Homo sapiens: one gene and its partner. The protein of the gene in region 1 purifies or fractionates together with the protein of each later gene. This does not show direct contact. Each region holds a gene or a part of one and is shown on either strand. Other genes may lie near its edges.

Region 1 (4,240 bases):
AAGGCACGGGCAGAGTCTGACATCATGAAGCCTGGGGTGGGGGTGGGACTCCCCCTCCCCCTCCAACTCCCCCCCAGCCCCACAACGCTTCTCTCCCTGGTCTGAGGGATTTCCCCGCCCCTCACCCCCTGGGTTCTCCCTTGAGAGCGAGGACCCCCCCTCCCCACTGCTCTGGCCTGAAGGAGGACAGGAGATGTCCCAGTGAGGCTGAACAGCTCATGGTGAAATCACTGCTGCACTTTGTCACGCCACCTCCAGCTGCCCCGAGCCCCCACCCACCTTGCAAAAGTCATGACCAAGGGGTGGAATCTGCACTCAGAGGGTCCTTGCCCAACTTGGTCAGCACAGTCCTATGTGCACCAAGCACTGCCCCGGGGACAGAAGGGTGCACATGACAGACAGAGAGGCAGATAGGTTTCTGGTGAGCCCCTGCCTCTGAGAGCTCCTGGGTTAGTGGGAGGCAGAGGCGGGCAGACCTAGGGTGCACACGGGCCAGCCTGCCAAGGCTACAGAAGGAAAGGACAGCATTGCAATGGAGGGGCCTGGCTGATGGGCGAAGATGGGAAAGCTTCCCAGGGAAGCGGCACCCAGGCTGCTGAGCCTACAGGATGGGTGAACGGCAGCCAGTGCCAGAGTGGGGAGTGCTATGGGGTGGGGACTGCTTTCCAGGAAGAATGAGCAGCAGGTGCACAGGCCTTGAGTCTGAAGGTGCCCTGGGGCTCTGGGGAACACATTCAACCACCCACACTGTTTATTAAGCTCAACTGCCTGCCAGGAGCTTGTCTACGAGCAAGGATGGATTGAGAATATCCAAGACGAAGCTTCTGGCCTGGTGGAGGTCACGTTCTCATGAAAGGAGTTGGTGAACACGGAAGGTCATTTCAGATGGCAAGAGGAGGTGACACTGACGTTGAGGGTGGAAAGGACCTGTCTCCTCCTGCTGCCCACCTAATGTTGCCACCAAGATTCCCTGAGGACAATGCCTCTGTCCCTCAGCCTGGGACTTCCAAAGAGATTAGACTGCCCCCCCACCCCCGGGACCCAGAATCAGGGTGTACAGGGATGGAAGATGGGGAGAGAGCAAGGCAGCCACTCCCGACCCCTCCAGGAAAGAGCTAGGAGAACCCAGGCGTCAGGCTGCCCAGTCCGAGCCCCGTGGTGACAAGGGCCCCTTTGTGCCCCCCTCCCCCGGGGGTAGGGAGGAGCTGGGCCCTGGAGGCAGGCGGCCCCTGGCACCCAGGGGGAGGGGAGGGGCTGGCAAGTGGGGGCCTAGACCCTGGAAGGCAGGGGACTGCGAGCTGGGCTGGCGGAGCAGAGGTGCAGAAGCAACTGAGTCCAAGTGAGTATGGTGGCAGGGAGGCCAGGGCAAGGGGAGCAGGGCACCGGGGCAGTGGCACCCAGACGTGAGCAGGGTCAGGTGCTCTGGGTGAGGGAGCATCGCTGTGCACCGCTACTGATTTAGGATGCAGGAGTGTGTGGCTTGGGGCTGCTTTGGGGATGGGCTCGGACCATCGCTGGGGCAGCGATGGGGCTCTGGGAAGAAACCACAGAGAGAAAAAACAAAGGGCCCCCCCTCAGCACCCCTTGTGGGTGAAGATTTTGCAGGAGAGGTTTCCTTGGGGTTCCCGAGTGCGGGGCAGATGGGGTGGAGGAGGTCTGCATCTGGCCGAAGAATGGAAGGATGTCCAGGTGATCAGACACCTGCAGGCTGCAATCTGGGAGGTGGATGGGGGCAGTGGGCTGTTAGTGACTGCATTCTAGCACCTGGGCACATAGCAGGTGTGTGTGTGTGTGTGTGTGCGTGTGCGTGCACACACATGGCTGCCCATGCACCTTCCTCTGTAAGCCTCAGTCGACTTTTCTTCATTAATCCCCACTAAGGACACTTTTTATTTTTCGTTACTTTTTTTTTTTTAAGAGACGGGACTCTCACTATATTGCCCAGGCTGGTCTCAAACTTCTGGGCACAAGAGATTCTCCCAACTTGGCCTTCCAAAGTGCTGGGTTTACAGGCGTGAGCCACTGCGCCCGGCCCCAACTACAGAAACTTTTTAGATGCATTTGTCCTCATCCCATCCTTCCCTTGGCATTTTAATCCAACAGATCTGCTGTACATATGTTTATGGACTGTGGCCACACACACTGTAATAGCTGAGGTTGATTTGGCCCCCATCCCGAGAACTTGTTTTCCCCGCTGTTAAGAGTGCATGGTCTACCTGCTTGTTTCATGTCTGCCCGGGCACGTGCTCATCCTCATCTGCATCTCTCTCCTGTACCTTCCTGTCACAGGTGCAAGGGCAGCGTCGGCCAGGTGTCCATCGGCGCGTGTCTGAGTGGACGCGTCTATAGCCATCCTCAGTGTGTGTGTGCAGTTCCTTGCATCTTTGTTAGCCTGGCATGCATGCTGGGCTGTGTGTGTGTGTGTGTGTGTGTGCTGAATGCCAGGGCTGTGTCTGTCCAGGTGTGTGTGGACAGCAGCAGAGGCATTGCATGCACGCCTTGGGAACTATGTGAGTGCCAGCCCATCCCTGTGGGCACAGGGGTCCCTGTGCCTGTCTGTGTGTTCAGGGTCCTGTCTGGGTGTCTGTATGAGTCTCCGCTGCGTGTGCCTGCCCCTTCTGGCTGGGGCTACATCTGTCACATTTCATCCCCGCGATTGGATGTGTCTGTGCATGTGTCTCTGTCCGTGGGAAGAGGGCGGTGAAGGCTGGGAAAAGCAATTGCTTGGAAACCCTGGCTGCAACCCCAAGGCAACCCATGGAGCAGCAGGGTGCCAGGGGCTCGCTAGCCCCCACCCTGGGCCTTCCTGGCCCTGCTCAAAGGCCAGCCAGGAGTGCCTGACCCCTTTCTTACTCCCCACTTACCCTGAAAGCCCCCCGCAGGCTAAAACACCCTCTCCCCGAGGGAACAGGACTCTTTTGTACCGGGGACCAGCTTCTGGTGAGGGTGCGGACACCAGGGGCCGTCTGTGGGGTGGGAGAGGGCGGCAGGAATTCACGCGGCATGTCGGGAATGCTGATACTGTGAAACCCAGTCATTGATGGCTCTGGGTCCCTGCCCGCCACCCCCAGGCCCCGGCCGTGGGACATCTGCTCCCTCACTCCACTCGCCACACCCCTCAGTCTCACCCCCGTACCCCGATGCGGTCGTTCCCCCTTCCCTCCCCACAGTTCTCTGACACCCCAGCTTGGAGGGAGTTGTTGCCAGAGAGTGGCTTCGAGGCTGTGTGGGAGGGTCCCAGGCACAATGGGAGGGCCACATGGGCAGCCTGACAACAGGTCACAACCCATGCAGGAGATACTGAAGCGGGGGTGGGTTGGGTGCCTCAATCCCGCCCCCTTGCACCTGAGTGACTCTTGTTGCATGCAGGTTGTCTGGCGGCTTCAGGTGGACCCAGAAGACGTCCCCAACTCAGGGAGATTCAGGTGAGGGGCAGGGTACCAACTCTCTTCCCTTGCTTCAGCTTTGCAATGCTGGCCCTGCCTTGGCTCTCTGGTTCTTACTTTCTGGAGATCTCCAGGGGCATCACGGTGACAAAGATAATGATCAGCACATCATCACTGCATAGAGACAGGACATGCAGCAAAGACTGCAGACCAACTGTGTGGCCTTGGGCGAGTCACTTAACCTCTCTGGACCTCAGCTATAAAATGAGGATAATGCATCTTCCTCAAAGAGATCCAATGAGTTAAGACAGCAGAATAAGCAGTGAGGGCTGGCACATGGCCAATGCCATAGAAGGGTTTATAATTATAAGTAATAGCAGCAGGCTGGGTGAGGTGGCTCATGCCTGTAATCCCAACACTTTGGGAGGCTGAGGCAGGAGGATCGCTTGAGCCAAGGAGTTCAAGACCAGTCTGGGCAACACAGAACATGGCAAGACTCCCATCTCTAAAAAAAATAATAATAATAACCAAATAAATAAACTAAAATAAAATTAGCCAGGCATGGTGGTGTGTACCTGAGGTCCCAGTTACTCTGAAGGATCGCTTAAGCCTGGCAGATTGAAGCTGCAGTTGAGTGAGCCACGATTGCACCACTGCATTCCAGGCTGGGTGACAGGGCTGAGACCCCATCTCAAAAAGTAAAAAGTTAAAAAATATCAGCAGACCAGGCATGGTGATTTACACCTGTAATCCTTTGGGAAGCCAAGGCAGGAATATTGCTGGAGGCCAGGAGTTGAAGACCAGCCTGGGCAACATAGTAAGACCCCACCTCCACAACCATTTCCACAAAAAAG
Region 2 (3,751 bases), on another chromosome or scaffold:
CCTGTCAAGTTCAAGTCCTTTGAGGCTGCTCGAAGTGAGTGGGGGTGGGTGGCAGGCATGGGAGCTTGCCCAGCTCAGCCCTGCCAGGTCTGACGCCCTTTCTTGGCTCACCCCTAAGAGAGGAACAAATGCTTCGAGATGTCGTCCTTTGTGGAGACCAAGGCCATGGAGCAACTGACCAAGAGCCCCATGGAGTTTGTGGAGTATCCTTTGAAGGTGCTGTGGGCGGGCAGGCCAGGGTGGGGCGCTCGGAGGCCGGCTCCGGTGTTCTGTCCCCACATATGCCACCTGCACAGGGTGCTGGCCCTCCGGCGGCCCTCCTGCACCCTGGCCTGGGGCTTGGGCAGATCCAGGCAGTCTCAGGGGGCATGGCTAGGCTAAGAAACAGAGGCCGGGTGTGGGGGTCACAGGAGCACCTGGCTGAGGCCGGAGGTGGAGGCTGATGGGGTGGGCCCTGGCACCTGTGTGGCCCCTGACCACCAATCTCAGATACAACAAGCAGCAGCTCAGCCGCATCTACCCCAAGGGCACCCGCGTGGACTCCTCCAACTACATGCCCCAGCTCTTCTGGAACGTAGGGTGCCAGCTTGTTGCGCTCAACTTCCAGACCCTCGGTGAGCCCTGGCCCCCTCCATCTTGACCCCGACCCTCAGTCTTACTGACTTCTGACCCACGATCCTGCTGGTCTTGCCTGAATGGACCTCTGACCCTGTCTCATCCCAGATCCCAGGGGAACCCAGCTCCCGACTCACCCCGCCTCCTGCCCTTGGCTGATACCAGACCCCTCCCCTGTCTGATCTGTCCTGGATCCGGACCCTGATGCCATTTGAGCCCGCCCCTGACCCTGGACCTTGGATGCCATCTGACCTGATGATCTCCCATTCCCCACATGGCACCGTCCTGCCTGATCCCTGCCCCTGCTCGACGTGCCCGTGGCACCCCAGATGTGGCGATGCAGCTCAACGCGGGCGTTTTTGAGTACAACGGGCGCAGCGGGTACCTGCTCAAGCCGGAGTTCATGCGGCGGCCGGACAAGTCCTTCGACCCCTTCACTGAGGTCATCGTGGATGGCATCGTGGCCAATGCCTTGCGGGTCAAGGTGGGGCTTGCGGGCGGCTCAGGCCAGGGGTGTCCTGGGGGCAGGACTCTCAGCATCCGCCTCACCCTCCTTGGCCCACCCCCAGGTGATCTCAGGGCAGTTCCTGTCCGACAGGAAGGTGGGCATCTACGTGGAGGTGGACATGTTTGGCCTCCCTGTTGATACGCGGCGCAAGTACCGCACCCGGACCTCTCAGGGGAACTCGTTCAACCCCGTGTGGGACGAAGAGCCCTTCGACTTCCCCAAGGTGAGCCTGGCCCCTGCACCCGCCCAGGCACAGGCAGATCCAGCCCAGACCGCCCCGACTCTCAGGTGGGAGAACAGGAACCAGGCACACCGTTGGCGACTGGGGATCAGAAAGTGGGGGGTGCCATGGGTCCCCCAGGACCTGCCTGTCCGAGCGTCAGTCTCCCTGCCCTCCTTAGGGTAAGAGACCAGGGTGAGAAGGTGAGATGGGGGTTGGGGGGTGTCAGCTAGACGTCTTGTGTCCCCTGCGAGGAGTGGACACAGCCTACCCTGTCTCCGAGGCAGGAGCTGAGGTCACAACCCCAAGCTCATATCCGCTCTTCAGCACCCCGCACGGCCCTGCATGGACGCGGCCTCTGCTCCCAGCCTGGGCATGTGTGTTCTTGGTTTCCTGCTCATGACTCACTCCCGTTTCTAAACTGGCAATGACCAGAACTGTCTGTGGGGGCCCTGGAGGGGCCTGGCTGCCTGTCATCTTGCCTCAGGGTCCTGATGGCTGCAGTCATCCATTAGGCCAGGACATGGAAGTGGGGTCAGCCATCAGCTTAGTGGCAATGGTGACTGATGGTCAGTAGGTCAGCTCGTCTGAAGGTCTGCTTTGTTAAGCTTTGATGGCTGTGGTTAGCTGTGGCCTGGTAGCCACAGTGGCCCAGGGTCAGCCCTGTGGCTCAGCTCCAGTCTGGCCCACAGGTGGTGCTGCCCACGCTGGCTTCACTTCGCATTGCAGCCTTTGAGGAGGGGGGTAAATTCGTAGGGCACCGGATCCTGCCTGTCTCTGCCATCCGCTCCGGTGAGGCCTTGGTGGGCTCTGGGCAGCACAGCGGGCAGTGGGTAGGGCCCCCACCTGGCCCAGCAACCCAACGTTGCCTTCCTGACCACCCAGGATACCACTACGTCTGCCTGCGGAACGAGGCCAACCAACCGCTGTGCCTGCCGGCCCTGCTCATCTACACCGAAGCCTCGGACTACATTCCTGACGACCACCAGGGTGAGCTGGGGGTGGGCGGGGCCTGCCTGGCCAGGGAGTGTGAGGGACAAGGGCCACCCCCAGGGCCTGGGAGTGGCCGAGCTGGATGGCCCCGACTGAGTAGGGAACTGAGTAGGGAACAGATCTGAGGACAAGCTCTGGAATTCCTCATTGAGACCAGAGGTGGCGGGTGGGGGTGGCCTGGGGGCTCTGTCTCTGAGACCTTGGCCTTCTGCCTCCCCCCAGACTATGCGGAGGCCCTGATCAACCCCATTAAGCACGTCAGCCTGATGGACCAGAGGGCCCGGCAGCTGGCCGCCCTCATTGGGGAGAGTGAGGTGAGCCGGGGCAGGGCAGGGCTCAGGCTCACTGTGACCCAGGGGGCCGCTGGACATGACTGCTGTGGCCACATGAGGAGGGGGCTTCTGGTCTCTCTAGCGCAGTAGGCTTGGCAGCCCTGGGATTTTGAGGAGATGAAAACCACCCATTTGCATTCAGGAGGCCTTCAGGTCACACCTGGGCTGGAATTCCTCCAGCTCCATGTAGGCTTGGAGTGGGGGTACAGGGGTCTCAGCCACTTCATCAGGGCAGTGCGAAGCCACAGAAGCTGTTCAGACGTGGTGTCCTGGGAGTCATGAGGAGGGCAGTGGCTTCCGTGGGGAGGGGTCAGGCACGGAGGTTCACCTGCGCTTCCAGATCCAGTCCCCCCAGGGCCTGCGGCAGGCGGGCGGGGAGAGATGACTGCAATTAGGGCTGCCTGGAGCTGTTAGCGGAGAGGCTGGTGCCCACTCTGCGGTTGAGTCCTCTGTTGATTTAATCAGGAGCTCAGCAGCAAGGAAAATGAGCGACTGTAGGCAAGGCTGGGGGACACAGGCAGGGGAGGAGAGGAGGCTTGGGGCTGGGCCAGGCCTTTCCAGAACAATCTGGGAGTTACTGAGCACATGCAGTGGGCTGGCATTATGTTATCTTCCCCACAGCCCATGTGGAAAAGGGGTTTAGAAAGGCTTGATTTATAGCTCTTCTCATGCAGACAGCCTCCTGTTACAGAGCAGTCCAGCAGTGGCTTGGACTAAGGGAGGCTGACAGGGGTGCTAGGGGACCCAGGAGGTGGTAGAGGACAGAAGGGTCTGGAGGGAACAGCATTTCTGAAAAGAGCATTCTCCTTTCTCCCTATAGGCTCAGGCTGGCCAAGAGACGTGCCAGGACACCCAGTCTCAGCAGCTGGGGTCTCAGCCGTCCTCAAACCCCACCCCCAGCCCACTGGATGCCTCCCCCCGCCGGCCCCCTGGCCCCACCACCTCCCCTGCCAGCACCTCCCTCAGCAGCCCAGGTAAGGAGTGGCCTGGGTCGGGGGTGGGCTGCAGGGAGGCACCCCCCACCCTGTCCTCCAGCTCCTCACAGGGCCTCTGCTCCCCAGGGCAGCGTGATGATCTCATCGC

Evidence for each region.
Region 2: the proteins of MAG (region 1) and PLCB3 purify together in Homo sapiens (affinity purification with mass spectrometry; one large-scale study listed by BioGRID and IntAct). This does not show direct contact.

Annotation. Positions count from the first base shown.
Region 1 is NC_000019.10:35,290,866-35,295,105, forward strand, and holds the start of MAG (myelin-associated glycoprotein isoform a precursor), read left to right. Parts: upstream 1-1,295; 5' UTR 1,296-1,339; intron 1,340-3,369; 5' UTR 3,370-3,425; intron 3,426-4,240. UniProt on the Homo sapiens protein: Adhesion molecule that mediates interactions between myelinating cells and neurons by binding to neuronal sialic acid-containing gangliosides and to the glycoproteins RTN4R and RTN4RL2.
Region 2 is NC_000011.10:64,261,463-64,265,213, forward strand, and holds part of PLCB3 (1-phosphatidylinositol 4,5-bisphosphate phosphodiesterase beta-3), read left to right. Parts: coding exon 1-34; intron 35-118; coding exon 119-203; intron 204-489; coding exon 490-614; intron 615-723; coding exon of another isoform or gene 724-797; exon of another isoform or gene 798-904; intron 905-944; coding exon 945-1,099; intron 1,100-1,184; coding exon 1,185-1,346; intron 1,347-2,035; coding exon 2,036-2,135; intron 2,136-2,228; coding exon 2,229-2,333; intron 2,334-2,558; coding exon 2,559-2,650; intron 2,651-3,488; coding exon 3,489-3,642; intron 3,643-3,729; coding exon 3,730-3,751. UniProt on the Homo sapiens protein: Catalyzes the production of the second messenger molecules diacylglycerol (DAG) and inositol 1,4,5-trisphosphate (IP3).